Linked DNA regions of Homo sapiens: region 2 is linked to region 1. Evidence: fine-mapped expression QTL. A gene starts in region 1. The other region holds a variant in brackets. All regions are shown on one strand. Distances are from middle to middle. Region 1 holds the start of SDCCAG8 (SHH signaling and ciliogenesis regulator SDCCAG8). Region 2 overlaps SDCCAG8 (SHH signaling and ciliogenesis regulator SDCCAG8).

Region 1 (16,758 bases):
GAGTAGCTGGGATTACAGGCATGCACCACCACACCTGGGTAATTTTGTATTTTTGGTAGAGACAGGGTTTCTCCATGTTGGTCAGGCTGGTCTCAAACCCTCGACCTCAGGTGATCCTTCCGCCTCAGCCTCCCAAAGTGCTGGGATTACAGGCGTGAGCCACCCTGCCTGGCCTGTATTGTCCATTTTCTTAGTAAGAGTTTCCCTACTTCCTATGTTCTAACTCTTAGGTCACCACTGGGCCTGTCTTCATCAAGATGTTTTTGAACAAAATGCAAGTATGTCTCAGTCTAGGAAGAATCACCACTTAAATACACACTATGAATTATTAATTTCTTCATTCTCCATCTGTCCTGGGAGATGTGAAAGAGAATTGCCCTGGTGACAGGGAGGGGGACCACTCCCTGCGAAGCGCCCAGCTGTCTCTGAGAGAATATGCAATGAACCATTCCTCCCGAGGCCGAGATATGAGATGCACTGCAGCTCCCAGCACAAGCTTTGATTAGGGCAGACATGCAGAAAAATAAAACCACAGTGAGATAAGAAATACATGTCTATCTACACTTGACTGGGCCTCAGCCTGGTTCAGAAGATTGCTGTCACTGTTTACTAGGGGACCAACAGGTAACACTACCAAGATATAAACAGCAGAATCAAAAAATCAGACAATGTCGGCTTTGTGAAAGGCAATTACAATTGTGAAAGAGATTACAAGTACTATGTAGAATACTTTTTTGTTTGAATCTCAAAGAAAATACTATCCTAAGACTCTAATAACTGAAAACATGCTAAAGTGGTTGGCGCCAGGAGTAAAAGATAATCTGATAAAGAATGTAAACATCTTAAGAAAGCAATGTCTGGAAGACCATTAAAGATATGTGGGTGTTGGCAAATCCAGGAGATTGGCTATATGCATTCTAAGGGATACACCTGGTATTTCTTTGGCATCAGTGGAGAGGACTGATGCACCTGTCACTTTCCACTGATAAAAGAAGTAAACCTAGCCAGGCTGGCAAAGAACATAGGTAAAATCACCAGCAAATACAATCTGTATATCCTTACTTGTAATTACTGTAAAGTAGGATTCTTGCAGATCAAGGGCTACAAGCAAAGCCTGTACTTCTAGATCGTGATTTCTCAACCTCAGCACTATTGACAGTTTGGACCTGATAATTCTCTTTTGGAAGGGGCTGTGTTGTGCCAGTTTAATAGCATCCCTGGCTTCTGCCTACCAGAGGCCAGCAGCACTCATCTCCACCCCCAATTGTGACAATAAAAAAAAATCAATAAAACAAGACAGTTTTCAAGTCAATAAAACGAGATCAATAAAACAAGAGTTTTCAGTGTTGAGGGGAGACTTGCTATCACTCTGACCACATTACATTGTAAGTGTTGCCGCCTCTTGATGGAAAATGAGCGTGACAGTGAGCTATTCTGCCACAGGAGTGCTGGTGGGGAGGACACAGCCTGAGACCGACAGTGCCATGATGGGACACATCTGATCCAGGTGTCAGGAATAGGTGTTATATCTATCAGAAGCAAGAGCTCAGATTCATATTTAGCTTTATTTTGTTTCAGGGCCTAAAAGCAATATTTGCCCTAAGGCCATCCCTTTAAGTATCCAGTGGGCTTTGATGAAGTTCCGCCATCATCAGGATTGCTTCAGCCAGTGCACAAGGGCATTTCTAGCTACCTTGTCTACTTTTGGACTCTGAGAAGAGTTATCATCAAGTAAAATGGTGAAAATCTTAGCACAAACTGGCAATGTGATCAGACCATAAGTCTTTAAACATCCCAGGAGAGAATATTATTACTCTCAGTATCTCAATAGTTTGAAAAAAACTTACTCTATACCTATTTCTGACAAAGAACATGAAAAAGTACCCCTACAATCTCCTAACACTGAAACATACCTTTGATTTAGATTATTCCAGGGATGACTATTTACTTGTAGAACACTCATTTCTTTTCTGGTTGCTAAATCCTGTCTTTTGCCAATTTTATCTCATCAGTAGTAGGAAAGAAAAATTGAGATTGTACTTTTAAGTTCTAGTAAAATAAAAGATCATAAAAGTTAAAGGCACTAAGAAGAGCCACATGAGGCCAGGCACAATGGCTCATGCCTGTAATCCCAGCACTTTGGGAGGCCAAGGCAGGTGGATCACTTGAGGCCAGGAGTTCGAGACCAGCCTGGGCAACATGGTGAAACCCTGCCTCTACTAAAAATAAAAAAATTAGCCGGGCGTGGTGGTGGCACCTGTAATCACAGCTACTCGGGAGGCTGAGGCAGGAGAATCGCTTGAACTCAGGAGGCAGAAGTTGCAGTGAGCCAAGATCACATCACTGCACTCCAGCCTGGGCAAAAGAATAAGACCCTGTCTCAAAAGAAAAAAAAAAAGTCGGGCACCGTGGCTCATGCCTGTAATCCCAGCACTTTGGGAGGCCAAGGCAGGCAGATCACCTGAGGTTGGGAGTTTGAGACCAGCCTGACCAATATGGAGAAACCCCGTCTCTACTAAAAATACAAAATTAGCCAGGTGTGTTGGCACGTGCCTGTAACCCAGCTACTCGGGAGGCTGAGGCAGGAGAATCGCTTAAACCTGGGAGGTGGAAGTTGCAGTGAGCTGAGATTAAAAAAAAAAAAAAAAGAAAAAGAAAAGCCACATGAATATATAAAACAAAAGATGAATATGTATAATTTGAATTTTATCAGCAAAAAACCCCTCATGTTTATGTGTGTATATTCCTATATAGTGCATATGGCAAACAATATTTAAAAATCCAGAAAATATTTGAGAAAAGCAAAAAAGAAATACAAGTTTTATAAGAAAACAGGAATACTTATTTGAGTTACACATATGTTTTCTTAAGACAGCCAGATGATATCACTGCTGGCTAATACACTGACCAAATTGTTGGCTAGTAAGACTAACACAGCCCTTCTACAATTGTGAGCCACTTTGCAGGATTTGGATAGATGTGCTAATCATATACAAGCAAAACATAGAAAGTCAACCTTATCTTTGGTTTTCTTGAACTACATCAATTCGTAAAGACAAGGCCCATCCCTGAGATTATATATTTTCTTCTCATATTCATCCTCTCACTTTCTGTGTACCTGGTTCAACTCCTTACTCTCATTTCCATAAGACAAAAACATAGCCCTTAATCATTCATCTGGTCCAAACAAGTGCTGATGGAAGGAACATTAATGATCAAAGGGTCAGAGAGTGGTGTCTAAAGGGGAATCAGGCTCTGGGTGTGTTTTGCTTGGCTTCCTTCTTGGAAGAAAAGAGGGAGGAAAAGAGGGAAAAAGAGAGAAGAAAAAAAAGGAAGCAAAGAGGGAGGGAGCAAGGAAGAAATTGAAATGTTTTTAGAAAAAGCAGAAACTGCCCAATTTGGCCATAAGCCTCATCATTTCCCTTAATGTCTTCCACTGACTCCATCATACCTTTTGATCATTTGCTTGGCACCTAAAGGCAATAATTCTCACATCCAGTCCAAACTTTTCGTTTTACAGTTGAGGAAACGGGAATCCAAGAACAGTGTGTTTCACTTGCCTAAGGTTACCCAGATGGTTGTCAGCAAAGCAAAAGTAAGTGCAGTGACCTGGCTCCCAGCTCCACATTCTCTCCTCTGACCCCACCACACTCTTCCCATAAATTCATCTAAAGGCTGAAACACCAAAATGTTGACAGAAAAAGGTAAAACCAGAATGCAAAATGTATATAGAAAATCATGAGTTCCTGTCATACAAGAAGTTTGTTTCATTTTTCCTTATACTCACCCAACCAAAGGTGGCTAGGAATGAGGTGAATAGGTGAGTCATGTATACAGGTGTTGTTGATAAAATTGTTATCTATTCCCAACGCTGCAGCAAGAGATGAGACATGATTCTGTTATTAAGGCTAAAATACTGCATTTCTAGCAATTTTTCTCCTTTCTGATATCCCCTTACACTCAAGTGTGCAGTACTTAAAATAGAGCCTGGATTGCCTATAATTGTGGCTTTTTTCACCCTTTCTTGGCTATGAAATAGTTCATTTCATACCTCTTGGCTTTATACAACGATGTATTGAATTTAGAGAAGGCGCATGTGCTATCTTGCCCACTTACAAATGTAGTTCTCGGCCATTCTGTGGTTGTTGAATTATAACTACCCATAGAGTAAATGAACACCTAACCTTACTGCCAAGAGACCTCCCAAATCACTTCCAGTTCTAGATTAAATTCTGTGGTTCCCAGGATACCCAGGACACATACACTTTTAACCACACTGGAAACTTTCAGACCATTTACTATGTAGGAATAATACAACAGATCTGTGGGGGCAACAAAGCCTTCCGGTTTTTCTGCCAGAACTCTCGTTTTGAAGAAGAATCATTAAATGTCTCCAATTTCTTGTAAAAGGGCATAGGCGACCCAAAGCAAGAGATATCTTTAGAGAAGTCAAACAGCAAATCCACTGAAAAGTGTAAGGGAATGGATGAAAGGTGAATGTGGAGCTGCTCCAAGATCATCAAGGTCAAAATGAGGCAAGGATCTCATTTTAAAAGCAAGAAAGTAAACGCTGACTCAGTTTTCACATTACAACTTCAAATTATTGATATACCATAATAGTACCAAAATTAAAGAAATGAGGAAAATATCTTTTTTTGTTTGTTTGTTTTGGAGATAGGATTTCACTCTTGTTACCCAGGCTGGAGTGCAGTGGCGCGATCTCAGCACACTGCAACCTCCGCCCACCGCAACCTGCGCCTCCCAGGCTCAAGCAATTCTCCTGCCTCAGCCTCCCGAGTAGCTGGGGTTACACGCGCCTGCCACCACGCCTGGCTCATTTTGTATTTTTAGTAGAGACAGGGTTTCTCCATATTGCTCAGGCTGTTCTCGAACTCCAGACGTCAGGTGATCTGCCCGCCTCGGCCTCCCAAAGTGCTGGGATTACAGGCGTGAGCCACCGCGCCCAACCTCATTTTAAAAACAAGAAAGTAAATGCTGACTCAGTTTTCACATTAGAACTTCAAATTTTGATATACCATAATAGTACCAACATTAAAGAAATAAGGAAATTTGTTTTTGTTTTTGTTTTTGTTGTTTTTTGAGACAGAGTCTCGCTCTGTCGCCCAGGCTGGAGTGCAGTGGCGCGATCTCGGCTCACTGCAAGCTCCACCTCCTGGGTTCATGCCATTCTCCTGCCTCAGCCTCCTGAGTAGCTGGGACTACAGGCGCCCGCCACCACGCCCGGCTAGTTTTTTGTATTTTTTTTTTTAGTACAGACGGGGTTTCACCGTGTTAGCCAGGCTGGTCTCCCATCTCCTGACCTCGTGATCCGCCCGCCCCAGCCTCCCAAAGTGCTGGGATTACAGGCGTGAGCCACCACGCCCGGCCCCAGGAAAAGATCTTTTTAAAATGGAAGTACGATCACGGAAAATAGGGAAAGCATTTTGCATTTTTATGCGGCCACTTCCTGGCTGAATATCAATGAAGGGATATTAGTAGTGACTACATGTGCAGTTATTTACAAGCTAGAGGAAAAACCGGTGAGGAAAGACCAAGACTGTTTATTAGGCTTCCATTAATCATAAACTACGCAAGGCATTTGGGGAAGTAATGGTGGGTAGACAAAACCAAACAAACCAACAAAACCAAAACAAAATAAGACATAGAACTTTAAACTGCATTTTATCTTACTACATAGTAATACAATTCTTAAATTATTAGGCACACTCAAAATAAGGAATTTCCACATAACTCCAGCATTGTTTATTAAGGAACAGAATACTTTACTTTAAAGGGAATTATCAGCCGGGCGCGGTGGCTCACGCCTATAACCCCAGACTTTGGGAGGCTGAAGTGGGCGGATCACTTAAGGTCAGGAGTTCTAGAGCAGCCTGACCAACATGGCGAAACCCAGTCTCTACTAAAAATACAAAAATTAGCCGGGCATGGTGGCGCGTGCCTGTAATCCCAGCTACTTGGGAGGCTGAGGCTGGAGAGTTGCTTGAATCCAGGAGGCAGAGGCTGCAGTGAGCCGAGATGGCACCACTGCATTTCAGCCTGGATGACAGAGTGAGACTCCATCTCTAAATAAATAAATTATACTACTCAAAAATAGCAATTTATATTTGTGAAGAACTTCTGACTGTACTTAAGTTCAGAGTTAATTCTGTTTTGTTTCCTTCCAGAAGCTGTTATATAAGCTAACATACAAAAATAAAAGTGCTACTAAATAAATGATATGTCCTGAAAAACCCATAAACATTTCAGGTTACATTTCCTGATTCACTGTTAAAATTATGAATACGTTTTTTTTTAAGTTGTTTAACTTTTTCTATCCTTCGTATTTGCTCTTGGTGAAATGTTTCCACTACCTTATATTGTTATCACACTAAATTTAAATTTTATTTCAAACTAATTTTAAAATGTATTATCCTTAAATGAAAACCCTTCATTCTGTAATTATTGAAAGCAGTACCACTAGTATTAAACATATTACTATAACATTAATTTAAAATGAACCCCTTTACTGCGTCAAAATGCCTAATGTTAAACAGCCTCCGACAATTATATAAAGACTTAAAATAAGGTCAAAGGAAGAGAAGCATCAGGAAAAACTTTCAATGAAAACAAAAAATTTTTGCCAATCTTAAAAATTACAATTACTCATATCATTGTGCACAGTATTTTTCTTGCTTCCAAATGAAAAGTTAGAAGTGCTTATTTTGTATCTAACAGCTCTTGAAACATCAGTAGGTTGAGGAAGGTGTTCATTAAAACCGATTTTTTTACTCCTGCAGTTTGAATACTGAGAATGTCGACAGTTTGTTAACACAATTGACAGATGTAACAATACATAGTAACCCTTATAAAATCTAGAGTCATGAGAAGATAAACTTTCTAATATTGAAAAACCTTCACTTTGCTTTAAGTAACAAGTATAAATAACAATTAACATTTAATGAGTGCTTGTCTAGTAAGCACTGATCTTTACCCTTACTTTCTATCATAGTAATCTATAATTATTTTTTTTTTTTGTCTTTCTCCCCAACTAATCCAGAAGCTCCATGGGGATAGGAACTTTGTCTTGTTCCTTACTGCATGCCTAGCACCTAGTATGCTTAACACATAGTAGGAGGCACTGACACATAGTAGGCATATTATGCAGAACAACACATGCTTCATAACTTAGTATTCTCAATGTCGCAAACAGTCATGACCTAGAGGCTTATGAAAATGCAACAGAATAGAAAGCAGAGTTTATTACATTTAGTAGAATAAAAATTCTTCAGTGAAACTTATAGTTTATATGTACACATATGTCCCATATAAAATTTATTTCTTACTATAGGTAAACATTTTAAGAAGTCTTAAAATCACTGCTTTATGGGGATTATTTCATTTGCTCCCCACAATAACCCTATGGACAATTCCATAACTTCCATTATAACAGAATCGAAATTTCTAGATGTTATATATGCTGTCCAAGTTGACAGCGCCATCTAAAAGTACAGACATTAAGTCCAACAGAGCTTAAAGGAAAATAAATACAGACATTATTTGTACAGATACTTGCTCATATGGTAATGTGGTAAGAAAATCTAAATTAATAAGGTTTTGATAATAGTAATTATGGCTTGATTAGTAAATACAAACATAGGCTTTGAAGGCAAGCCTGATAATACCTGGCTCTGCAACTAACCAGCTGTGTGGGCTCTGGCCTGTAATTCAACCTCTCTGAGCTTCGCTTTCCCCATGTGTAAAATATTCACACGATTGGTGTAAGCTGCAGATGATTTACTGTATGTAAATAGCCTAAATCAATTAAAAGGGGGCTCTTGTGATTAAAATAATTATTAGTGTTTCCCCCCACTGATCCCATAAATCACATTCAATCCACTGTGCCATAATTTAAATGTGTAAAAACTGTGAATCAGACTTTTATTGGATTAAATAGCAACGTATGGGAACTGAACAAAAATGGCATAGAGCTATCCAAGAGTTTCTGCTGTCGCCGGTTGAGAAAGATGCCAAGTTAAGATCAAGGAGTTGATTGAGGTAACTACGGGAATCTGAGGAAACATCGTTGCTTAACTGTAAAAACTAAATCAAACTATTTCATCCTCCTCAAGACCACAGCAACATCCATCTTGCTCCTCTGTAGCGTGGACGGGGCAGAACCCAGGTGTTAGGAAACGCACCTGGTCTGCTCCCGCCCACTAGGCCCTGGGCACCTCGGGGCTAGGGACAGAGGTTTGGAGCAACTCACCCCGGAGACTCCGTTGATACTGCCCCAGAATCTCCTCCAGGGTAGAGTTCTCCGGGGACTTCGCCATGCACGCACTCTAGGCCCAGAGCTGGGAGTTACGTGGGGAAATGTCCAGCTTTCTCCCTTCCGAGAACAACAGGCCTGTGGCCGGGGAGCGCCCGCCTGCTTCCTGCCGCGGCTGTCACAGGGGAGCCTAGAATCCCGCACAGAGCTCTTGGGGGCTCTTCCCACCCACTGGCCCTCGCTTTGCACGTCGGGAGTTGTAGTCCTCACGTTCAGAACCTGCAAGCTCGACAATCCTCAGGGCCTTCCAGTTACACTACAATTCCCAGAAACCACTGCGCTCCAGGCGCTAGCTTGGACGGTTTGGCTGCCAGAGCCTGCTGCCAAGAGACAGGCTTGCAGGCCCCGCCCTTTTCCTCCAGCCCAGCCTGGTTTAGTCCCGCCTCCATCCCACTCTTCAGCTGCCTGGACCACCCAAATGACAGAAAGGGCTCACTGAAGGCCTTGACGCTTCGAAATTTGCTAATATGCAGCAGTTGATCCCCAGGCTACTCAAGGACGCAGATAGTAAACTCTGAACCCTGCTTCAGTTGCGAGATTTTTTAAAACGGTCGAATAAATCTTCAAGAAATAGAAGCTCTAAATCTTCCAAACAGCCTAGATTGTAAAGGCGGCCGACACTACAACTCCTAGCATGCCCAGCAACCGGACCTTCACTTGGAGTTGGCGCTCTGCCCGCTGGGAACTGTAGTCCTTGTTGGTTGCGGTCCCACCTAACGCCGAGGTCCTCTTCATTGTTCAAGCTGGTCTTTCGGGGCACGCCTGCGCAGTGGGCAAGCTGGAAAAGCGTGTGGGTGAGACCCTCGCACAACCCCTTTTCATTGTCTGTGTGTGGCGCCTGCGCAGTAAGGGATCGTTGGAACTGGGCAGGAGGGGATAGGGTCCGGCTCCTCGCCCTTTCCCGAGGCGCCTGCGCACTAGGCAGTCGGTCTTTGCCGTTACCGCTATGTGTGGGGCGTGTGTGGAATAACGTTATTGCCCAGCGGAGCTGAGGGCCCCGGAGCTCGACCGCAGCGGCAGCGACGACAACAGCGGCGACGACGACGACGACGAGGTGGGGGGAGGACGGCGTGCGAGAGACTCACGGGACGCGACGCGCCCCGCCTCCCCCGTCCGGTCCCTCTCTCCACGGTAAGGGGTAAGTGATGCGATCGGCTGCTCGGTGTAGGCGCCGCAGCCGCAGCCACCGCCGCGGCTGCTTTCCACATCCTGCTCCTCGGGTTTGCGGCGAGGACTCGGGCGCCGCCCGCCGCGGGGCGGGGGTGCGGGGCTGGACCGCGAAGGGGGCGCTTCCCGGGTGCTCCGCGCGGCGCCGCCACCCCCACCCTCTGCCCGCCTGGGACCCGGGGCTTGACGGGACCACCCTTCCCATCCCCCACCCGCCGCCCCCCGGAGCTCCAGTCCTGCGGCCCCCCGGCTTTCCCGAGCCCCTTGCTGCCGCCTCCGCATCCCCTAAGTGCATTGAATCATTTTCAGCTTTCGACTGGCTTTGTGCAGCCCTCCCCCCTCCGCCGTAGCAGTTTGCGAGGGGTGCGGGCGGAGCATTGGAGGGAATGGCTGCGCTGCCGCTGGGGAAGGGATTTTTCCCCCATTGGAGCAGCTCCCCGGGCCAATCCCTTTTGTGTGATTGGTTTTGGGGTGTGAGGCGGTTGGCGAGGTCAGGCGAGCAACCTTTTGGACGCGTTGGGAGGGCGTGGAAGACGCGGTGTCATGCACCCTGCCTGGCGACTGCACCCCGTGGAGGCTCTGGCTCTGTAGTAAACCCGGGGGAGGAGAGAGTGGCTTCCTGTCGGCTTCATTGTCCTAGGATTCAGATGTAGGGTTTTGGTACGTTTCGCTTCCATTTTATGCAAGCGATGAAAAAATAACATTTGCAGCTGCCTAACACAGGGCGGGAAGACGTGGGATTTGTATACTAAGTCACAGAATCTCTGTTCGGTGGTGTTTCGTAGAGTTTTATTTATTTATTTATTTATTTATTTATTTATTTTGAGGAATGTAAGGAAGACAGGGACTATGCCTGCTGGAGTCCAAGCACTGCCAAGGTGATCAATATAAAATTACTAGGTGACGTTGGAGCCTGGGCTAGAGAGGGCCTGACAACGAAGCTGTTGTGTCAGGGAAATGAACAAGCAGAATTGTTTTTTCATTGGGCAGGTAATGCATTTATGTTCCTGAGGGAATGGATACATCTTTCCGTTTATTTTTTAAGCAAGTAAAACAAACAAAACAACTGGCCCAGTACATTTCTGTTACCGAAGTTGTTAACTCATTTTTATTCTCTTAATGAAAATTCAGCCATTTGGGAGGAATTTGGCGAAGCAGATGATACATTTGATTGAAAATGCATATTTTAAAATGATTTAATCCTTAAGCTTACAATGTATGCAGCCGTTTGCTGGCGTTGCTTCTTAAAACACACCAGAAGAGAGAATAAAGCAGGATGGGGAGGAGCAGGTGGAGGAATAATGGGAGAGGAGAGAGTGACATTATGACTATAGTATCTGGATCTTCACTGGTATAACCCTAACTGGGTATGCTTCAGAGACTTAGGAATTCAGCTCTGGAAACAGTACACTGATGAATAGCAACTTATGTATTTTTCTGTTATTATTTTTTAAAAAGTAAAACTAGGGCTGCCTTTAGCTCTTCCTAACTTTGTAGATAACACGGAAGAGCCCAAGTGCACTTGACAGAGGAAGACACTAAAACTCAGAAAGTTAACTGACTTGTCTGCCCAAGCCAGACAGTTAATCGAAGGCAGAGCCAAACGAAACTCAAGGTCCATTCTGCAGAGTGATCTTTCCTGTGTCCCCCTAGCCCTTTTACCTTGTGAAAATGTATGGAAAGCTTCTCTATGTGCTCCCTGAGTAGGCTGTGACTATCACTGAACTTGATTCTCACCGTGATTAATCTAGTTCTTGCCTTTGTGATGTAAAAGTAGTAATCCTCCTAAAATGGACCTTTACTTTCATAAAGTAACTTACTACATGAGGAAAGATGTCCTAACATGTGCTTTTCATAAAAACGAAGTGTTGCAGTGTTTTCCCTACTACCTAATGGTAGCTACTTAACGGTAGGTTTTAATATTATTTCTTGAAAATCAATAGTATTTTATAATAGTATGATGATCAACTCTATAGGCTGTGTTAAAAATAAAATTTCCGCATAACAAGAACCTATGATGTTTATTTTGCCACAGTTAATGAGTTGTAATCATTAATGAGTTATTAGTGATTACTTTTAACTTAAACTAGAATTTACATTTTAAGATATATTAACTTTATGTTTTTTATTGGGTTGATTTTGCCATAAAGTGCTTTTTTCTTCCCTTATAATTTTAATCGTTTAATTTTACGTTGCATTTTAATAGACTTCTTTAAAGGATTTATTATTTATCTTAAATTTCAACTTTAAAAATCTGTAACTAAATTTCAGTATGTGGGATTATATTCAATCATGCTTTAAATGTATTTTACTGGTAAATTTCATTGTGTTCTGAGATTATTTTGTATGGAAATAATCTGCCTGTTCCCTATTTTAACATTAGAATAGTGAAATTTATACTGTAAACCTTAGCATACATTCTGCATATTAATGCTGTTATGGTACTTTTTAAAATTCTGTGCTTCGTGATTTATTTGATTTGTTCCAAGTATCAGTTTCTTGTTCCTTTTTATCTACTGAAAAAAAGAACTAGTTTTATTATTGTATCTGATTGCAATTAGATAATGCTCATCTAGTACTAAATATTGTATATGCTTAAGCTTTTTTGTCAAAATGTTTTTTATTCCACAAAATTGTATTCCTGAAAAATATTTTTTCTATACTAATTAATAGGTAAAGACTTTTCTTTCTTATCTGTCCCAAACACTGGGATGTTAAGCAGTGTACTCTTCAACTAAGTATCTGACAGACAACCTGATATTTAATTGCTAACTAAAGTATCTGTACAGTTGCAAATTATTCTGGAAGTATAACAAAAGAGCAGTTACGTGCCATTTGAAGAATGCTTGGTGAGTAGATAGTATTGACTGGAGCATTCAGTGTTGATCTGTTTCATTAAGAAATGGGATACTTTTGATGGGAAGAAATATCTTTATTTCATTAATAACCAAAATTTCTAATCAGATACCCTAGGTTTTTATTTACTTACTCAAAAATTTCATAAAGGAGTGTTCAGCAGTGAGTTAGCCATTGTGAGAGATAAAAAACATCTGTCTGGTAGTGTGGTTGATTAAACTGGATATATTGTCCAGTTTAGCAGAAATGTTTTAGCCAAAGCCAGTGACATAGCCAATGTGTGTTGCTGTTAAAGCCCACTTTTATATCAAATAAAGGTGGAAAAACAAAACAGCAAAAGCAAAGTTAAAGAAAACCTCATAAAATCTACTTACATACAAACAGGAATTGCAGAAAGTATAGAAGTGGAAAAGAATCCCAAGCATGCATTGTTGAGGTCTGAAAAACAAATGACACATAGCAGAGAACAAGTCATTTTTTAAGTATATCCATAAGTAATAAATGATATAGAAAATATTACCCTTTGAAACACAATATTTATTGAATCGTTGAATAATACCTACCAAATTTTGAACATTTCCTAGGTGCCAGGAAGTTTATGTGTGTGTGGTGTGTGTGTATTTAATTTCTGCAACAAACTTCTAAATTAAGGTATTATTTTTACACATTGAAAAAATTTGAAGCATAGAGTTAGTGAATAACTTTGCCTCTGCGTTACACATTCCTAAGTGATAGGGCCTATAATTGAACCTTTGTCTTTTTGGCTAAAGCCAAAATTCTTTCTACTCATCTTTTTTAGTAAGTTAAAGGGTACCACTTATTTCCTTACTCTGGTTCATAAAATTTTAGAATTCAAGGGAACTTTAGAAGTCAGCTCATACAATGTATCACCCACTACTAATATCTCTGAGATGTTATTGGGTCCAACTTCTCCACAAACCCTTCCCTGGGCATAGGAAAGCCTGTTTAGCTTCCAAAAAGTGTAATAGGAAGATCTCACTTAAATTGAGCTAGTAGCTGCTTTTACTATATAACTTCTTCCCACTGGTTGCAATTCAGTCTTTAGGAGTAAGATGAAGTAAGGTTTTTCTCAATATATTAGCTAGATTTTCTCTTGTCTAAATGTTAGGACACCTCCAACTTCATATGGTTTCCTTTGCCATCCCTCACATCTCTCAGCTGGATTCAATCAGTTTTGTCAGTGCTATTCTTTGTGTTCTGATCTTGTTTCCATATTTAATTCTGCAGTTATGGTCTGAATGCAAAGTGCAGTGAAATTGTCCCTTTCCTTATTTCAAGCCATACACTTGTGTTTAAAGTCTAAAATTGTATCAACTCTTTAACAACAGTCATCTCTGCTAATTCAAAGCAAAAAGCAGAGAGAGAGAGAGAAATGTTACATGGCTTTTCAAGTTATATTTATGTAATTCAAGGTACTATTTTTTGAGATTTTGTTCTCCTTTTCTAATGTTCATAAATGGCCTTTATTAAATGATAGTGTTAGTAACACCTATTAAGTAATGATAGGTTAAGTTTCTTTTGATGTTGGTCATGGGGTTTTGTTTTATTTTAGTGTTCCTGATTAACCAATAAAAAGTTGGCAGCCTTATGTTGATTCTTAATTTGTTTTCTGAAAAATTGGTCTGGAAACCACTGATGTAGTCAACATAAACCAACATTTTTACACTTAGCTAGATTTCTCCCATTGTGTATAAACACACAGGTGATGTTTTTAAACCAGTATTTTACCATTGCCTCCTATTAAATTTCATCTCCGTGAACGTAGCTATAGTTAAAACTTGAGATCTTCTTGAATCATGATTCTGTCATCCAAGGGATTAGCTTTCCTTCCTGGCTTTTTGACATTTATAAATTCAACAAGCCAAACTCTTATGTCTCCATCCTGGCCATATACTTAATATAGCCAAGGACAAAGCCATGCACATTTATAAATAGAATGAATGTTACATAAATAAAAGATGCTGGGAGGAAAGGTGACACAAAAATAATGAAAACCATTCGGATGGGTTTTTTTTGTTTGTTTGTTTTTGGGGCCTTTTTGTTTGTTTTTGTTTTTGTTTTTTTGAGACGGAGTCTTGCTCTCTCGCCAGGCTGGAGTGCAGTGGCTCAGTCTCGGCTTACTACAACGTCTGCCTCCTGGATTCAAGCTATTCCCCTGCCTCGGCCTCCCGAGTAGCCGGGACTACAGGCACGCCCGGCTAATTTTTTGTATTTTAGTAAAGACAGGGTTTCACCATGTTGGCCAGGATGATCTTGATCTCCTGACCTCATGGTCCACTGCCTAGGCCTCTGAAAGTGCTGGGATTACAGGTGTGAGCCATGGCGCCTGGCCTTGTTTTGTTTTTTAAATTAAAGAGAAAACCATTATATCCTCCAGCAGTAAAGGAATTAGATGAAGTTTACAATATACTGGAGGATATGGATAATTCTTTTACGATGTAAAGTCAAGTAAGGATAGATGCTATGAAGAAAAATTAATCAAGGTAAAGAGACAGTGGTAGAGGACTGCTGTTTTACATTTGTTTTCAAGTGTTCATTCAGGTAGTTTTCAAATAATATTTTGAAAAGAAATAATATGAAAAACCTTTTCACCCTACATCTTATCTGCTGAGTTACCACTTTTGCCAATCCAGTAAGTAGCTATTTTTATTATTTCTTATGTATTCTTCAATGAACTTTATTTATTTATTTATTTATTTATTTATTTATTTATTTTGAGACAGAGTCTTGTTCTGTCGCCCAGGATGGGGTACAGGGGCAGGATCCCAGCTCATTGCAGCCTTGACCCGCTGGGCTTAAGCAATACTCCCACCTCAGCCTGTTGAGTAGCTGGGACTACAAGTGTGCGCCACCATGCCCAGCTAATTTTTTGTAGAGATGAGGTCTCACTATGTTGCCAAGGCTGGTCTTGAATTCCTGAGCTTAAGTGATCCTCTTTCCTCAGCCTCCCAAAGTTCTAGTATTACAGGCATGAACCACCACGCCTGGCCATGAATTTTTCTTCACCTCAAGCAAATATAAATACATATTTTGTGTCCCCTCTATGACACAAAAAAATAGCCTCTTTATCCACTATGCTACACCTTGAGAACTATCTTAGAGTGGTTAGGGAATCCCTCTTTCTGAGGTGACATTTAGCAGAGAACTTGCATTAGGTAAGGAAGCATCTTGTAGGTATCTGAGTGGAGAGTATTCTACTCAGGTGCGGTGGTTCTGAGGCAGGAATGGGATAAGTGAATTTGGAGAACACTGTGGCTGAAGGTGAGTGAGGAAAAGGTGCTTATAGGAGGAAATGAGGTTGCATAGAGATTTTATTCATTGATTTTAAGTGCTATGAGCATTCATTGGAGGATTTTGAGCAAAGCCAAAAAATTGGGTTATATTTTTAAAGAATGGCTCTGGGAATTCTTTAAAACACTGGGAACCATGAGATAAGCTAGGAAATGATTGGAATGATCTGGTTTAAGAGACATTAATGGCTTAGACTAGAGCGACAGTAGTGGCAATAGTGAAAGTTACTAGTTTCTGGCTTTAGAGAGTCAAATGTTTTGGATATGTTAAGTTTGAAGTGTCTGTTAAACGCCCAAGTGGACACATCAGGTAGGCAGTTAGATATGTAAGTCAAGCATTCAGAGGAGAGGTTTGGACTGAGGATAGTTAAATGTTAAGCATCACCAGTAGACTTAAAGGGATCTCTTGGCTAGGGAGTTAGACTGAGAAGAGATCCAAGAATTGAGAATTGGTACTTTCCACATGGAAAGCTGAGCAAAAGAGAAGGCGCCATCGAGGAGGATTGAAAAGTGGACAGTGGGGTGTGAGGAAACTGAAGAGTGTGTTGTCCCACAAGCCAAGTAAAGGAAGTATTTTTAGAGATAAGGAGTGATCAGTCCCCTGTATCACCTTTAATCACCTAAATACTTCATAAGAAATCAGGCAGTATCCTCTTTCTTTCTGAATGGTCTCTGAGAAAGCAATTTCCTTTTTTAAATCTGGTTTATCAACATGAATGTTCACAGTTATTCTCCCCTGGCAACTACTAAATCTAAAGCCCTGAACAAAGTTTTACTCATAAAGAGGCCAATGCTGTTTCCTACGTGGATGAGTATGGCAGCTGCTGCTGCCTCTGATGTTTGAACAGGAGAAGCGATGCTGTTTCATAGGAAGAATTTATCAGGAAGCTAGTGATAGTCCAGCTACCTCAGAGGTTTATTGTGGTAGCCAAACGAGGTAGATGTAAAAACCAAATGAAAGGTATAATTGCAGATAGGGGTCTCCTTCCCTTATTGCCCCAAGTGTGGTACCAACTTGATAGTGTTAGATTTGAAGAACTATGTTGGCAAATAAAAATATTTTTCATTTTGAGTCTGTAGGAATAGTTTTTTACT
Region 2 (16,758 bases), 170 kb before region 1:
AAAAATCTTTTGATTTCTTCCCATTAGTAACAAGATAAATTTAAAGGTCCATGATAAAAACATAAAGACCAGCCCGGTGCGGTAGCTCACGCCTGTAATCCCAGCACTTTGGGAGGCCGAGGCTGGCGGATCACGAGGTCAGGAGATCCAGACCATGCTGTCCAATACGGTGAAACCCCGTCTCTACTAAAAATACAAAAAATTAGCCGGGCGTGGTGGTGGGCGCCTGTGGTCCCAGCTACTCGGGAGGCAGGAGAACTGCGTGGACCTGGGAGGCGGAGCTTGCAGTGAGCCAAGATTGCGCCACTGCACTCCAGCCTGGGCGACAGAGAGAGACTCCGTATCAAAAAATAAATAAATAAAATAAAATAAAAACAAAAACATAAAGACCCTGCCTTTAGGTCCAGCCCTTTCCTACCTCTCCAACCTCATTGTATGCCACACTTTCTGTTTTCCTTTATGTTGGACACACAGTTCTTGCTCTTCCTCCAGTACTATGCTTTCTTATCTCAGGAACTTCCATTTTATAGATTTTCTTTCTCTAGAACAGGAGTCAGTAAAATTTTTTAGGAGAGGGCCAGATAGTTTGCCAATTCCTGATCTAATCCCACTGCTTACCGATTCAAATGTCATGTTCTCATTGAAGCTTTTCTTAATCAATGTTAAGTGCCCTGCTGGGGACAGTGGCTCACACACCTGTAATCCCAGAGATTTGGAAGGCCGAGGCGGGAGGATGGTTTGAGGCGAGGAATTCAAGACCAGACTGGACAACATAGCAAGACCTAGTACCCACAAAAAGTTTTAAAAATTAGGCCAGGCATGGTGGCTCATGCCTGTAATCCCAGAGGACGCCGAGGTAGGCGGATCACCTCAGGTCAGGAGTTTGAGACCAGCCTGGCCAACATGGGGAAACCCTGTCTCTACTAAAAAATACAAAAACTAGTTGGGCGTGGTGGCAGGCGCCTGTAATCCCAGCTACTCCGGAGGCTGAGGCAGGAGAATTGTTTGAACCCAGGAGGCGGAGGTTGCAGTGAGCCGAGATCGCGCTACTGCACTCCACCCTGGGCGACAGAGTGAGACTCTGTCTCAAAAAAAAAAAAAAAAAAAAAAAATTAGCAGAGCATGGTGGTATGTACCTGTAGCCCTACCTGCTTGGAAGGCTGAGGAGGGAGGATCACTTGAGCCCAGGAGTTCAAGGTTACACTTCAGCCTGGGCGACAGAGTGAGATATTCTCTTAAAAATAATTTTTTAAAAAACAAGTTCCCTTATTAAATGTACTTGTACCACAAAATATATTTCTCCTTCATAGAACTGGTCATTACTGTACAGTTGGCCCTTGAGCAACATGGGGGTTAGGAGCATCAACCCCCTGTACAGTCAAAAAATCCATGCATAACTTTTGACTCCTCTCAAATTCAACTACCAACAGCCTACTGTTGACCAGAAGCCTTATATTGATAACATAAATGGTTGATTAACACATATTTATATGTTATATGTGTTATACACTATATTCTTACAATAAAGTAAGCTAGAAAAAATATTAAGAAAATCATAAGAGAAAATACTTTTACAGTACTGTACTGTTATATATTGATGCCATAAGTTTATAATGTCTGTTTATAAGATGAATCATCTGAAATGACAGGCGGCTGCAGCTGCAAACTTCAATCTAAGCTACATATCCTGCAATGCAACTTTTGCTTGTAACGTCATGACTTTTCTCTGCTTCTTGGAAGTACTTCCAACATCACTAGTGGCACTTCGTATGGGTCCCACGGTGTTATTCAAGGTTTATGTATTGCACTAAACATGATGAAAAATACACAAGAGCTGCAATAGATCACTTGTTATTGCAATAAGCAATTTACTGGAGAGAGAAACTGTTCACATGCAGACGATTTAGTCCACACAGCGTTTTCAGTGGATACTTACAATACTTGAGCTCCTCGCAATAGCAACAGGAGGTGGTTACAAAATTATCACGGTAGTACAGTGTGTGCTACAGTTAACTTCATGCAGTTACGATCTAATACTGCACCTTCACATTTGACATTTCTCTCAATTGCAGATGGTACCATGTATGATCTGTGTTTGTGTGTGTAAGTTTGGATAAATTTTAACTTTTTATAATAGATTTGCATATATTTTATGGTAGTCAATGATAAAGACCAGTATCTACAGATGTTTTATGTATTCATGACATACTTAAATTTAAAACTTCTTTTCATTATTTCTAGGCTACATGGTTTGTCTGCAGGTTTTTTCAAATTGTTGCAAATCTCCAAAAAATTTTCCAATAAATTTATTGAGAAGAATCTGTGTATAAATGGGCCCAAACAGTTCAAATCTGTGTTGTTTAAGGGTCAACTATAATTAATTAGACAGTTATGAAATTCTTTTGCTAATATCCATCTTCCCTATAAGGATGTATACTCCATTAGAGTGGGAACTATATCTACTTTGCTATTTTATTCCAGCATGTGGTAGAAAATGTGACACACAGCAGCAATCAATCAATCAATCAATCAATGTTGAATGAACGAACCATTAATTTGCCACCTGACCTTCATTCGGCACGTTTGTCTTTCTTAGGCTTAGTTCTCCATCTGGAAATGGAGATGATAAATGCAGCTACTTTCAAGGTTGCTTCAAGGTACATAAGGTACTATGTGTGAGAGCATTCTAGGAACTCTAAAGCAATACACAAATGTAAGAAAATAAATGGAAAGATGCCCCAGGTGCACAGGACTGGGGCAAAGGCTGGCCCAATGGCCAAATCCTCTGGCTCATTTTGTTGGTCCTCTAGCTAAGAATGGTCTTTACTTTTTCCAAGGGTTGTAAAAAACACAAAACAAGGAAGACTATGCCACGGAGACCACGTGTGGCCTGCAAAGTCCGAAATATTTACTCTCTGGCCCTTTACGGAAAACGTTTGCAGACCCCTGGCCTACAGAAGTGCCTGGGCTTAAGTAAACATTTTAATAGTGAATGAATAATTATTACTTTGCAAGTATATCCATATTTTGGTATTTTGATAACTGACAAGCAGTGCCATCATCTGACTGCCTGTCTTCATTCAATAAAGCAAGTAATCAACGTAAAAATACCTCCCCCCCACCCCAGGCTAATATGCTTACTTTACATTTAAAAAAATACAAGGAGTCTATAAATATTTTCATTTCCTTCAATTATATCAAGAACTGTTTTTGAAACAGAGAAGGCATGGATGGCTGGGAAATGGTGTGGGGATGCCGAGCTGGAGGCCACGCGAACCGTGTCCACTGGAAGGGTGGCTGCTATCATCGTGCATGCGGTTGTCATGTGGAAGTCCAAGTCTACAGAAACCTATTCACTGTCTGCTGTGAAATACTGAGATTATTTTCTGCCCAGGGAATCCATTATCACACAGAAGTGAGAAATGGCACATGGATAAAAAATAGTAAGAGGCTGTGTTTATTGCCAAAAAAAAAATCCCCATTACTGCACAAAAAGAAAAGGATTTTGGAGTCAAAAGATCAAGATTCAAGTCTGAACTCTACCACTTATTCCATCTGTCACTTTGAGCAAACCTATTAGCCTCTCTGAGCCGAATTTCTTCATCTAGAAAAAGAGAATAATAATTATTGATGACATTTAGTGGGTGGCCTTTATGAGCCATGTGCTTTGCCATATTATATTTGATCTTTCCATCAAAATGCAAAGTAGATATGATTAGCGCCAATATATAGGTGAAGAAACAGTCACTCAGAGAACTTAAGTGACTTGCTCAAAGTAACACCACCAGAAAGAAGTGAAGGTTTTGTTTGTAGTCAAGTTCTGACTCTAGCAATGCTATTAGTGCAACCTCTGATAAGATGTTTAACCTCTTTAGACCTACTATGTGCTTTACCTTACAAAAAGCATATAAAATCTAATTTCTAGGAGAGATAATTTGAAATTCCTCCATATTACAATATTACCAACTTACACCTTAAAGGAAAATGGCTTTCCTCCATTCTTCCATGTTAAATCTAATTCTATGTCTTCAGAGAATAACAAAAAGAGGATGTACTCTCCTCTTTGTATATAATAAGAACAACCTAAATTAAGGAAGCATAAATACATAAAATAAAGTATTAGATTTTGAGCATGTCACAAGTAGCATAATGATGATGAATTCTACTTATTCCGCAGCAATTCCCCTTCAGTGTGTAAACCAAACACATTCAATATGCGGCACATGAGTTGACATGAAACCTTGATTACCTTTGCTTCATCGTCTCATGTACTCTCCCATGCTGGACACACTGTTCCTCCAATTCTTCATTTCTTCTCTGTAACTTTCCCAATTTATCATATGTATACCTTTTTTCTTGACTGAGTTGAGCTATTTCAGATCTAGAGGTGAAAACACAAAAATAATAGATGTTAGAAGTTCTTATTACTAGGGCATATTGTTATTATATAACCTTAACATTATCTTAAACTCCACACTTAAACATGATAGCATAATGAAAACTACATCCTTTGCAAAAGAAAATATTTCAGAAATGGCAAGATACATTGTAGAGACTCATGTGTTAGACAGAAAAAGGAATAACAACTTACTCTAACAGAAATGGCTTCCCTAAGGAATAAGACAAACATGATAATGATCAAATCTCTTTTTTAAAAGACTGTCATTCATTTAACAAATACTTACTGAGTGCTTGTTATAGGCCAAACACTATGCTGTCAAAGAAGAAACCCTAGGCCTAATTTCTATAACAGAGTTTCTTTTAATTAACATAACCAGTTTAATGGCACACAGTTAAAATAAAAATAGTTCTTTAATGGTTAATTTTATGTGTCAACTTCTTTGGGCCATGGTGCCCAGACATTTGGCCAGACATTATTCTGGACATTTCTGTGAGGGTGCTTTTTAGATGATATTAACATTTAAATTAGTAAACTTTGAGAAAAGCAGATTGCCGTCCATGCAGGCAGGCTTTATCCAATCCACTGAAGGTCTTAATAGAAAAAAGATTGACCTCCCCTGAGCAAAATGGGAATATCTTGTTTTTCGTGTCTTAGATGACAATCCAAGTCTCAAAATTTGAAGATCAGAAAGATGTTTATCCAAGAAAAATTATATTCCTTTCCTTGTATTAAGTAAACTCTAAATTACTGCCTACTGCCACCATCTCCTCATGCCCTAATGCCTAATCAGTTAGAATGGAAAGTTTAAAACTCTTGTATATTATGAGTCGTTTTCAGGTTAATGATTGGATTGTTTTCTGAAGACTCCTGACATAAAATTAATTCCCTTCAAAGAAAGAATTCTTCCAGTAGGCAAGATAGCCTTTTCTTCCTGGTCAGAAAAGGATTTGGATTTGCTAAGGGAAATCTTACTTTACAAATTGTTCATCCCAAGGACCAGGCTGCTCACGTGTATGGAGCAAAAACTCTTGCTTTTAGTTCACCTCATTCTTCATTTTGTTTTCATCTTGGTTCAAATGTCATCCAAAAGGAAGCTTGCCCTGATTGATACCTTGCAGTTCTCAATATGTCAGCACGTTTTTTGAAGCTACCTCTAGCCTTTATGCATACATTAGCTTATAATTTATTCTTTTAAATTGTGCTCTGTGCCTTGTCTTTCCTACCATATTCTGTATGAGAGCATGGATTATCTCATTTTCAAGTTCAGATCAAGTGCTCAATCTACATTTGCTTCTCCTAATAAGAATCTACCCATATTTGAAATAGTCCGAAAGGAGTTAATAATGACTTACGTTTCTCCTTTCAGAATCACATACAATACAAAAGAATTTAGAGGCAGTTATGATAAATTTTTGATCTGGTATCCCTTCCAAGATTAGTATCTCCTATCATACCATGCACTAAAATAAATTTCAAAAGAAGAAAAAAAATCCTTAAACCAGATTAGAAAAAAATGCAGAACATTGATCTTTTCCCAGGCACTTTCCAAGCAAAAGGCACTTTTAAAAAGAAAAATCACAAAGAAAAAAATAGATTTTACAATATAAAAATACAAAACTTTTATGCATAAAAAAATCACATTTAAAATATATCATAGGTTTGTGTGAGAGTATTCATTGTAGCATTGTTTCTAGAAACAACCTTTCTTTGCAACCCATAATCTGGAAACTTAACCAAGAAATCTATCAACAGGAGCTTGGTTATGTTACTTATTATTCTGATAATGTGGCTATTTATAAGTGATATTTATTGATCTAAAACTGTGACATATTAGTAACAAAGAGAAAACATTAAAAGTCAGCATGTGTAATGTGATTTCATTTTATAATTTAGAAAAATATTTTGACATGCATACCAACTATTAATATTGGTTATTTCTGGATGGTAGGATCAGGAATGTTTTCTCTGTTCTGTATTCATCCTTTTCCATACTTTCTAAATTTTTAAAATAGATATGTATTTTATTTGTTTTAAATAAATTCATTCTGATTTTGAAAAAAATCATAATAAAACAAAATGTAGATGTCACTGGTGGGGGAGGTTGTGTGTGGAAGGAACAGGGAATATATGGGAGTTCTGTACTTTCTGTCCAGTTTTGCTGTGAACCTAAAACTGCTCTAAAAAATAAAGCTTATTAATTAAAATCAATGTAAACAACAGGAAATTATTTACAAAAATAAGACAAACATTAAAAGCATAATTTAATGAAACACTAACTGCACTCTCCATCAAAATTCCAATTAAAAAGTATAAGAAATATTGAAAATATCTACAGAAGAAACACAAATGATCAATACCATTTATAACATATTCAATTTCACTATTATTCAAAAAATAGCACAACAAAACCAGATACTACCACCAAATATTTACTGCATGCCACCGTATAACAAACAGTGAAATCCATCCTTTACATTCATGATCTCAATTAATCCTATAAGGTACTTGTAAGGGTTTCTTTTCTTTTCTCTGTGAGGTAAACATGAAGTTGAATAATTTGCCTAAGGTCATCCAAGTAGTCAAGCCCAGATATTACTTAGTCCACCTCTAAAGGGGTGGTTCCACCCACCTGTGCAATATTGCCTCTCATGCTTTTTTAAAAAAATCTCACTTCTTTGTAATGTTATTTACTAATATGGCTACATATACAGTTATTAGAAGTTAGTGTAGTACTTCAGCAAGGTAAAACACATCAACACCCTTAAAAGGATTAATCGTCTTGGACCAGCAATTAAGGAAACAATCAAAAATTTAGATTTAGGTACAAAGTTTTTGTTGTATTATTATTCATAAACGGTTAAAAATTGGAAGCATCTTAAAAGCCTAATAATTCTTATACACGCAAATCATTTAATAAAGTTTTGTTTTCAGAGTATTTACTGATATAGAAAAATGTTCATTAGATATCAAATGAAAAAGCAGACGCAAAACTGTATATACGGTATAATCTCAATCACACTATAAATGTACACAGACA[T/C]ACACATGAAAAATGACTGAAGGGAAATATATCAGAGGTAAGAATAGTTATCTCTAGCTGGTAGTGGCACAGGAAATTTTCCTTAATTCTTCTTTGTATTTTCCAAATTCCCTGCATTGAGGATGTCTTACATAATCCCAAAAATATAAATGTTATTTATAAAGTACACATCACTATCAAGTGTGTATTGCAACAATCTTTTTTTCTGCTTCACATTTTTGTTTTTTTCTTTGTTTATAATTGTAATTTGCCTACCAACTTCCATTTTTCAATAAAAATTTGACATATATGCCTGCACATCATCCTTTTTCTGTCTGCAGCTCACGATATGTTCCTAGAACTAGTAGTTTGCAAAGCTCAAAGAGTAAACTTACAAGTTTTCTGTTAGTTAGGAGATACATTTCTGGCATGATTATCCTGTGTCATATAAAAGGATAATTGACTCTAATCCATTTTCATAGAAAATTCAGGCAATTTCTGGCTTTACAGAAGCATGAACTTTCCCCTGTATTTTTATATACCAGTTATGTTGCATAATTGCATTTGCATGAAATATATTTTACTACTATAATTCGGATTAAAATGATAATTGCTTTCAAAGGGAAATACAATATCTTAATTTTTTATTCTTTTAGGTTCTAGTTTGACTTTTGGTAACAATTAGCAGAGGCCAATATCAGTCTCCTCTTGTAGAAAATATAATTTTTATAGTATCCCAACCTAACATCATCTAAACATGCAAAGGAAAAAAACAGTTCAACCGGGTGTGTGTTCTTCACCTCAATTAAACTCACACAGTTGGATACCTACTGTTGCCAAAACAGTAATATAATTTACACATTATAGTCCACACAGTAAAACTACACTAAAAGTCATTTAACAATATTTATAACACCATAAAGTATAGTGTTAAAATATATGAACTGCAATATGTACCAAAATTATAAAATTTGTTTCTCATCATCAGTGATTAAAACCGGGATCATTGCTCTAGCCTCAATACTCACAACCCTGGTGACAGATTAGAATTCAAATCTTAATGATCAATTTACAATTAACAAGATAGAAGTGAAACAAATTAAACCAACCATTATATATAACGAGACCCCATGGACTCCCATTGTTCCTCTTAATTACAAAACGCAAATCACAAATACACAATGGGCAGTGTTAGACATCAGTCCACAAGCCTCACAACCCAGAAAGTGACAATGACAGAAAAGAAAGAAGCAAAACCACATAGACCCTGGTTCTATGCTCTATCCTGTTCTTTTCAGTGTGCAAGAGGTGGAAGCTAAAACCTAGCACACACTTCTCTCCACTCTGTGGCTGGCAGAGGCTCACTCCCTGCCAGCACCCAATCCTTCCAGCTCTCCCAGGCCAGGTGTTAGATAGCACTGCAAACCGCACTGCAACGTTTTACTGCTGATTCATCTAAGCGCGTGGGGAGAGAGAACACTTCCTTCACTTTGATAAAGAAAAATCACAGTTGTACCGAAGATATTTAAATAGCTCCGTTTACCTCCTTCAAAAAACAACCCCATAACTATAATAAGCTCTCAGAGTACTGGGGAATACAGAAGGAAGGATAGCGAAAGTTTATGTGAGCTTCAACTAAAATCAGCCAGAATGTCTGCCTGGTGCCAATTAAAAGCAAAATGGAATTAATTCTCTTGCCTGATGGTCAAAAACAAGCTATACAACATGCACAGAATCGGCAGTTCATTTTAAGTTTTAAAATGGGACGTGCCATTCACAAACCCCGGGGTTACAGACACCACTACGTGCAGTGTGGAGTACACAGAGCGCGCAAACTACTGTGCTAATCACTATGGAGGCTTCCAGAAAACAGAAGCAGTCGTCACTGCCATAATGCGACTTACGGTCTCCTTGGGGAGAAAACACATACAACAGACACACACACGGAGGTACCATTTCAAAACATTTTCACAGAGCAACAGAGCAGCCTAGCATGAAGCTGGGGCAGAGAGTAAGGGCGTACGTGCACGCCGAGCCCATGCTCTCAGCTTTCCCGTCATTCTGCATGGGCTTCAGTCAAATGACTAGATCTGTGAGTTTAAAATCTTGTTTTAAATGGTAGGAATCTATTTGTTTAGTTGGTATTTTGAAAAACAAGACTCTTAGAGTAATGTTGCTAGTAACAGAGGAAGGAAAAATATGTCTTAATTATTGCTCAATACAAAATAAATACACTTACTTTTCAAGAAGAATTTTACTGTAATACTCTGAGGAAAAGCTGGACCAAAATTACCATATGGATTGCATAAGTATAAATTTGGAGACTGAGTTTCCACAATGACAAAACTTTAGAAACTCCAAGATTTTCCTTACCTCAAAGCACAGGGAAAATTATTTATCCCAATAGTTTGGCATGGGGTATGCAGAGGCACACTCCTGGAGGGCTTCTTCAGAGTTTACTACATTAATAATTTGTATTTTAAAAGAAGCAGTTTAAGCCCTTCAAGTTTTATAGGTGGTTTCAAAGCAGAAGGTAACATCAAAATGGAATGTAAAACTTAACATGAATGAGTTATTGAAAATGTCATAGTAAGAAGCCAGGGAGAAATGAAACTGGAACTAAAAGAAATTAAGAACAAACAACCCTAAAATCAAAATTTGTCCTATTCACTACCTTCTTGTGAGGCACACAAAATGCACTTTTCGTAAGTTTTAGGGGCGCTTGAGAGTTTTAAAAATAGTAAGTAACAATTTATCAAGTGTTTACTACTTGCCAGGCCTTGGTTGAGTCAAATTGTAAACTTAGAGTAGGTGCCTGCTTTAATTCATCAGAGTTACAAAATACAACTAGATCCACATTTTCCTGATCTGGCTGTTTTAAAAAGGCTTTCATTGTGGCATAGACTTATGTCCGTCGGAAAATGACAGTCAGACTTTCCCTGGCAAAGACAATAGCTATGTAAAGTGATACCCAAATTACCAGTCAAGACCCTTAAAAATGCCACCAGTGAAAATAATAGCAGCTACTGTGTATTACTATGTGTCAGGCACTGTGCTAGGCACTTGATACGTGTATGTATGCGTATCTATATACACAATTCTAATTCCCATAACAATCCTGCAGTGTGGCTTTAGAAATGTTTTTACAGAAGGAGAAGCTGAGGTTTGGGGAAATGAGGCCATGTACCCAAGGTTACAAAGCTCCAAGTGGGAGAGTGAGATTCAAACCTAGTTCCTCTGAATTGCCATGTGTTCTTTACTGCACACTGTCAGCCATCAACAATGGGACAGACTGGCATCAGAAGTCAGATCAGGAGGTGCGAATAGCACCACACCTATTTGTTTCATTCATTCATCATTTATTCATTAAATGCCATCTATGTCAGATACAAAAGAATACATCCAATTTACAAAGTACTGTTCAGGAGCTGGAGGAATGAGAAGCAGGAGGAGCAATAGAGGTTCTGAGTTAGACCAGTACAGGCTAAGATGACAGATCTAGAGGAGGAAAAAGAGGGCCTAGGGGCACAGAGTAAGTTAACCGTTACATGCCAAGGACGCTTACTTCTCCACGGAAATTTAAAGGTGAATTTTTCCTTCCCAAACTTTCTCATCATAACTACTGTGGCTTGAATTTTCTTTAGCAATAGATGTAAAATACTGTAATTACCATAAGAAAGAACGTATACTTTGGAACCAGAAATACCTATGTTAGAACCGTAGCTCTCCCACTCACCAGTTATTTAAACAGTTTTGGTTTCCTTATCTGGAAGATAATAATTCCTGCCTCAAGTTGTGGTGAGAATTAAATAACATACCAAGCACCTTTTTGTCTCTTTTATATAATAAATTTCCCTAATTAGGTCTCCTTGGAGAGCAAGATCACTAATCATTCACAAACCAATTTTAGACCTAATACATTTATATAAAACCCAGATTGATATCATTTTATCCCTAAATGATACAATCTTGTTTGTTTGCTTCTAACAAATTACTTTTGGATCTATGTGGTGCAAATCAAGTATTTCTGGTTAAGAATAGCTACTGTTGATATTTTATGGGTCTCTTTCATGACAAAATCATTTGGTTTTCTTGGTCAAATTTCCTTGAAATATCTGGTATTTTGGCACCTAGGTTTTCCCCTACCAAAATACAATCTTAGTATACGCTAGGAAGGTGCGCATGTCAGAGTACATTCTTGGTGGTTACAGGAGCCTCTGCCTTCCTGGTGAGCAGGGAGAGTTGGATGCACGAGCCCTCTGATTCCCCAAAAGATTCAGGGATGGGGGTTCTATCAGCTAAGACAGCTTGTTGATGCAGGATTCCAAGATGGAGCTCAGAGTGATCAGATATGCCCTGATACTCCCAGAAATCCTTCCCGAATGAAACATCTAGGTCAGTAGTTTGTTTGCTGAGCCATATTTCCTGCTCTCAATAGATCTATGTGAGTTTCAGAAAAATGCAGAAAAGAAGACACACAGGCAATTTTTTCATTGAGTTATCATATAAAGTAGTATTTGACATCTTATCAGTTATGTGAATATTGCCTTCTATAGTTCAATTTAAAGTGATTCTGTCCAATGTCTTTCATTTACAAAAGAAGAAACTATAGTCCAAGTAGGTCAAATACATTTGTCCAAGATTATTCAGTTACTGTCGGAGCTGAGATGGGGAGTCGGGCTTCTTGCAGTTTAGAATATGAAATAATTTATTCATTGAGATAATCTGACTAGAAAGTGTATAGAAAAAAGTCATTAAGATTCCAATCAATGGATTTATAAAAGAGTAGTATGCTATAAAATGAATGATGGCTGTTCTATTAAAATATAACAATTTTAGGAGAAGGGAAGAATAGTTTTGGTTTATTTATTTCAAAGTACCATCTACTTTCATTTTTATATATACACATTTCATCTGTTATCATTTAACCTAAAGACAGCTTTTGTGTTCATGGTGAATTGTAACAATAGATTAAAATGTGTTAACCATACCTATGTAAGATTTTATAACTGCTTGATTTATCTGCATGTTTATGTTATTACCATATTGATCCTTCTTTCCTGAAATTTCACAGTTTTCAATTCTAAACATTGAAATGTCAAATAATAGTACATACACATAACCATGAAAAAACATAAAAGCGTATAGACAATTAAGAAAATGTCCATATGTAGAAAATATTTTCAAAGAAAACATCAGCAGATACCTAATTTTGACATTAGACTATAAAACAGTGCAAATGATGTTTTTTAAGGAAAAATTAGAGTAATCACACAAACAGTGCTCTTGAAAGTATTCTATAACATCACCTACCTGGTTTTTTGAGAGATTTGTTCCAGTTTCTTGGCTAATGTACAGCATTCTTCCTTTAACTTTGTCAAAAATGTATTCTGGGAGGTCAGCAACAAATACTGTTCATTTTCTAGAAATAACAATAAACCCCCACCAACATAAGATGTTTATGGTTGTCGCTCTGCAGTGCTTCCATACATAGAGTGGTAAAGTGCTTAGACCCCTACACATTTCCAATAAGCCACTAGATCACCTTCAATGTCCTAAGTCAAAGGACTTATCATCTGGAAAGACACTCAATCTTGGGAGTCATTTATTTTCAACATAATTATACACCAGAAACATTTTTCATCATACCAGCTTGGTGTAACATTTTAACATGTTAATAAAGTGTCAAATACCTCAAGTGGAAGAATAGATGCTTATATCTTTGCAATATGCAAGATATTATATTTTTATTTTGACAATTTTACTATAAACAGAGTGTCAAAAATTATCACAACCAGATAACTCAAAACTAAAATCATCGAGGAATTCTCTTCTACACTGTAATTCATGCTTTGTTTCATATTTGCACACATGGTTTACTACCACCACCACCCCCAATCTTGCATACACTTCTCTAATTATGAAGGTAAAAATGTGTATTTTCTTTAGAATTTTAATTTCATTGTCAACAGCATGAGCTTCAATGGAGATCTGGTCAAAGAAATTGAAAACAGTGTGATTTTGTGTATGTGTGTACAAGACAAAAGGAAATGTTCTTAAGGCGGTTTTAACAGTTAAATACATTCTAATCTAGTGCTTAGATTCTGCCCAAGACTCTGATCACTAGGATCATGCTAGCAGTGGGGGCAAAAACAATAATTTATCCTACAATTGCCTCTTTTTGTTTTTAGAGGAAAAACTTCTACTAAACCTGGTGAATTTTCGTTTCTTCTGGCCAAATGCTGTTGGAAGAAAATCTCTACTGAAAGTGATAGAGGGAATTATGTGAGTCAATATGACATTTGCCTCTTCATAAGTAAATAGATTATTTAATGACTTGCCTGTTGGCAATTTTTCACCCATAGGATAAGAAATAATTTCTTACTGTGTCATCAAATACAATATATTAATACATTAAATCATATGAAAATTACCTCTAAGCATAAGTTTTAAGAGGCCTTTATTTCTTTTCAATTTTAGCCAATGATTGGCAAAAAGCATATAGCATACAAATCAAAATAAATCAAGGCACTAAAATTAAGCAACATTTTTCTGGAAGAGACAGGATCAATTAAACTTTTGTTTTAATAGTACAATCAGTGTGGAGTATGTGGTGTGGAATTATAATGACTGACACTGTCTTGTTTTGACTAACACTGTCTGTGAACACACAACTCAAAAGTGAAAGAAACTACATAATGCTCTGACTGAACAAATCAAACTGTCTATTTTCAAAGTGCATTTTACTTTCAAATTAAAGGTAAAGAGTTACTGGCCAACTCAGTCTGCAGAATAGTGCCAATGTGATGAAAGATGGCAATTTTTAGCCAAGCTGCCAGCTGTGGTCAGTGCCTTGTATTAGTGAATTTTAACAGCAGTTGTGAGAACTTGAAGAATGCAAAGGATTAAACATCACTCTAGATTGGGTTGGGGGAGGTGGGGAAATCATACAAATGCTAAAAATGTTCGAAGCTGCAAAGATTAAATAAAGGAACATATCAATTTGGAGCCACTGAATTACATCCAGCTGCGACAGTGAATTAAGAACCGATTAATGGCTAAAGCTTTTCTCCAGTTTGGATGCTGAAGCAAACTCATTAGGCTTTTAGAGTAGCTATAATGTGTGTACTGTGGGAACTGTTCAATGCTATTCAGGAGACTCTAACTGTAAGCTCAGAGCATTTCCCGCAGAGCTTCTGATGCTATTTTCTTTATATAACATGTGTGCCTGAAAACCCAGCCAAAAACAAGCCCTTTGTTTTTCTACTTTGTTGTGGTCTCTCTCAGCTTTACGTTTCTTGAACACAGGTAAATAAACTCATAATCCAGATGGTGCAACAGATGTGAGAGCAGCACTCTGAAATCAACAGACAGTGGGCAATACTTTCCATTTTCTCTTTTAAACGCTAACTAATATGTAATTCGGAATCTCCGGTGTAGTTAGCATCTGCTCCCTTCGGCCAGCCAAAGGTTACAGGTGTTCCTGATGTCATTTCACAGTAAGGCGTGGGCCTGACTTGTGAGCTAGTGCCCAGGCTCTAATCTTTCCCTACCACCTACCAGTTTTGTCATGCTGGGCCTCCATTTGCTGTATCTTCTGTGTCAGCTCCTGCTCTCTTTGCTGGGCCTGAAGGGCTTGGGCCTTTGCTTCCTTGCTAAAGCTCTGCTGAATGCTATCTTTTTCCTGTCTGCAAAACAGAGAGGAGACATACAGAAATTTAATCTGCAGATGCACAAACCCCCATCATGTCCCCTATAGACCAGAGAGAGCTGATACGTAGTAAATTGTTAAGCATAAGAAGACAAGGACCTTTCTAATGACCCTCCCCCACTTTAGGGGGAAGATCCAAACAACCTTCCATACAGTGTTAAATACGTGCCATGAATCCAAATGGACTAAAGTGTGCAGTGTCAAAACATCATAACAACTAAATAATGGTATTTTGTAACTTTAAAACACAAAACTTTTTTCTCTAATATTCTTAATGTTTTACACTATCAATGAATGTTTCATCTTCTGAGTGGTCAATCTTTCCCAGAGATACTGGAACTCTAGGAACAAAACTTAAATTCTTAAAACTAAGCTTTGTAGACCACCTCTGTTTTCACTCTAAACTTAAAATGGAATCTTAAATATAATGCAGGAGCCTCTATCTAGAGGCGAGTAAATGATTCTGCAGTGCCACATTCATGTTTTCACTAAATATCTTCACACATCAGGCCATATAATGTGAATATGAATACAAATATGAATACGAATAACTTCCCCCAGCACTTCATAATAAAATCCCTCGTGGGTCACATTGAAAGAAATTGCAGGATGAAAAGCTTCTGTAGTCAGACAACAACCCATCGTACTGTGATAGGACACTGACCTATCCCACTGGGTCAATAACCAAGCACAGTGGCTCCAAAGAGAGAAACTTCCTAAACAATTAGAACCTGGGGAATGCAAAGGACCTCAATGCTGGCAGCACTGTGGATACTGACAGTGTGTGTGTGCATGTACATGTGCACACACACACACACACACACACACACACATATTAGAATGGTTCTTCAAACTCTAAATATGGGTAAGTGATATTAGGGTTTCCTTCAATTAACTGACTTAGTTATTTCTAACTCCTGATCTCCTTGCGGGCATTTCTCATCCATGCTGCTTTAGTTTACTAATTGAGATATTTACTGCTTAGCCTTTGCCAAACTAAAAATAAACAATTCCATAAAGCTATCACTACTAGTCTATGTACCGCTGTGGAACTTCAATTCACTGGCTTCTAATTATAAAGCAACATAAGGAAAGCCTGTATTAAAATTGGTCAATGCATGTGGTCATGTTGTAGTATAAAATTCTGGAATGAAAATACACCCACACCTCACTCAAATGGAATCATCGGGGGTCCATGCTAAATGTGAAATAAGGTCCTGTCTGGTACTTCTAATAACAACACCTCCCCCCGGGATGTGGTCCAAGGTCTTGCGTCGCACTCGGTTCCAAACCAGTATATACAACAAATGGATAGTCAGACTAGGCTACTTTTTGCCTCCCCAGTCACACCATGTATTTTCTGGCCATGGATCACTGCACATGTCTCTTCCTCTTCCTGGAAAGCCCCTCCACCTGCCCACTCAATCCCCCTGTAAGATGTATACATACAACTACCCGCTTCAGGCCTAACTCAAAATTCTTCCCCTCTCCTTCCTCTCTCCTGAATTAACTATTCTTCCCTCAATGACCTCAATATATGTTGTGTACATCGTACAAAGATAGTATTTATCACACTTTAGTTATTGTTTAACATGTCTGCTTCGTTTGTCATCTTTATCTCTCTATACC

Evidence for each region. PIP is the estimated chance that this variant, and not a neighbour inherited with it, causes the effect.
Region 2: its variant is the best candidate, but not a certain one, in a credible set for the expression of SDCCAG8 in whole blood (TOPMed, PIP 0.54).

Annotation. Positions count from the first base shown.
Region 1 is chr1:243,247,749-243,264,506 of GRCh38, reverse strand. It overlaps SDCCAG8 (SHH signaling and ciliogenesis regulator SDCCAG8), which reads right to left and starts at 8,466. Exons shown (of 18, transcript NM_006642.5): 1 at 8,267-8,466. The coding sequence starts at 8,333. CEP170 (centrosomal protein 170) reads left to right here and starts at 9,226. Exons shown (of 20, transcript NM_014812.3): 1 at 9,226-9,467.
Region 2 is chr1:243,414,050-243,430,807 of GRCh38, reverse strand. SDCCAG8 (SHH signaling and ciliogenesis regulator SDCCAG8) reads right to left here. Exons shown (of 18, transcript NM_006642.5): 14 at 14,979-15,106; 15 at 12,732-12,840; 16 at 4,250-4,381. Among named protein-coding and RNA genes, the nearest start is that of MIR4677, 76 kb to the right of the region's middle. The variant T/C (reference allele first, on the strand shown) is at 7,440.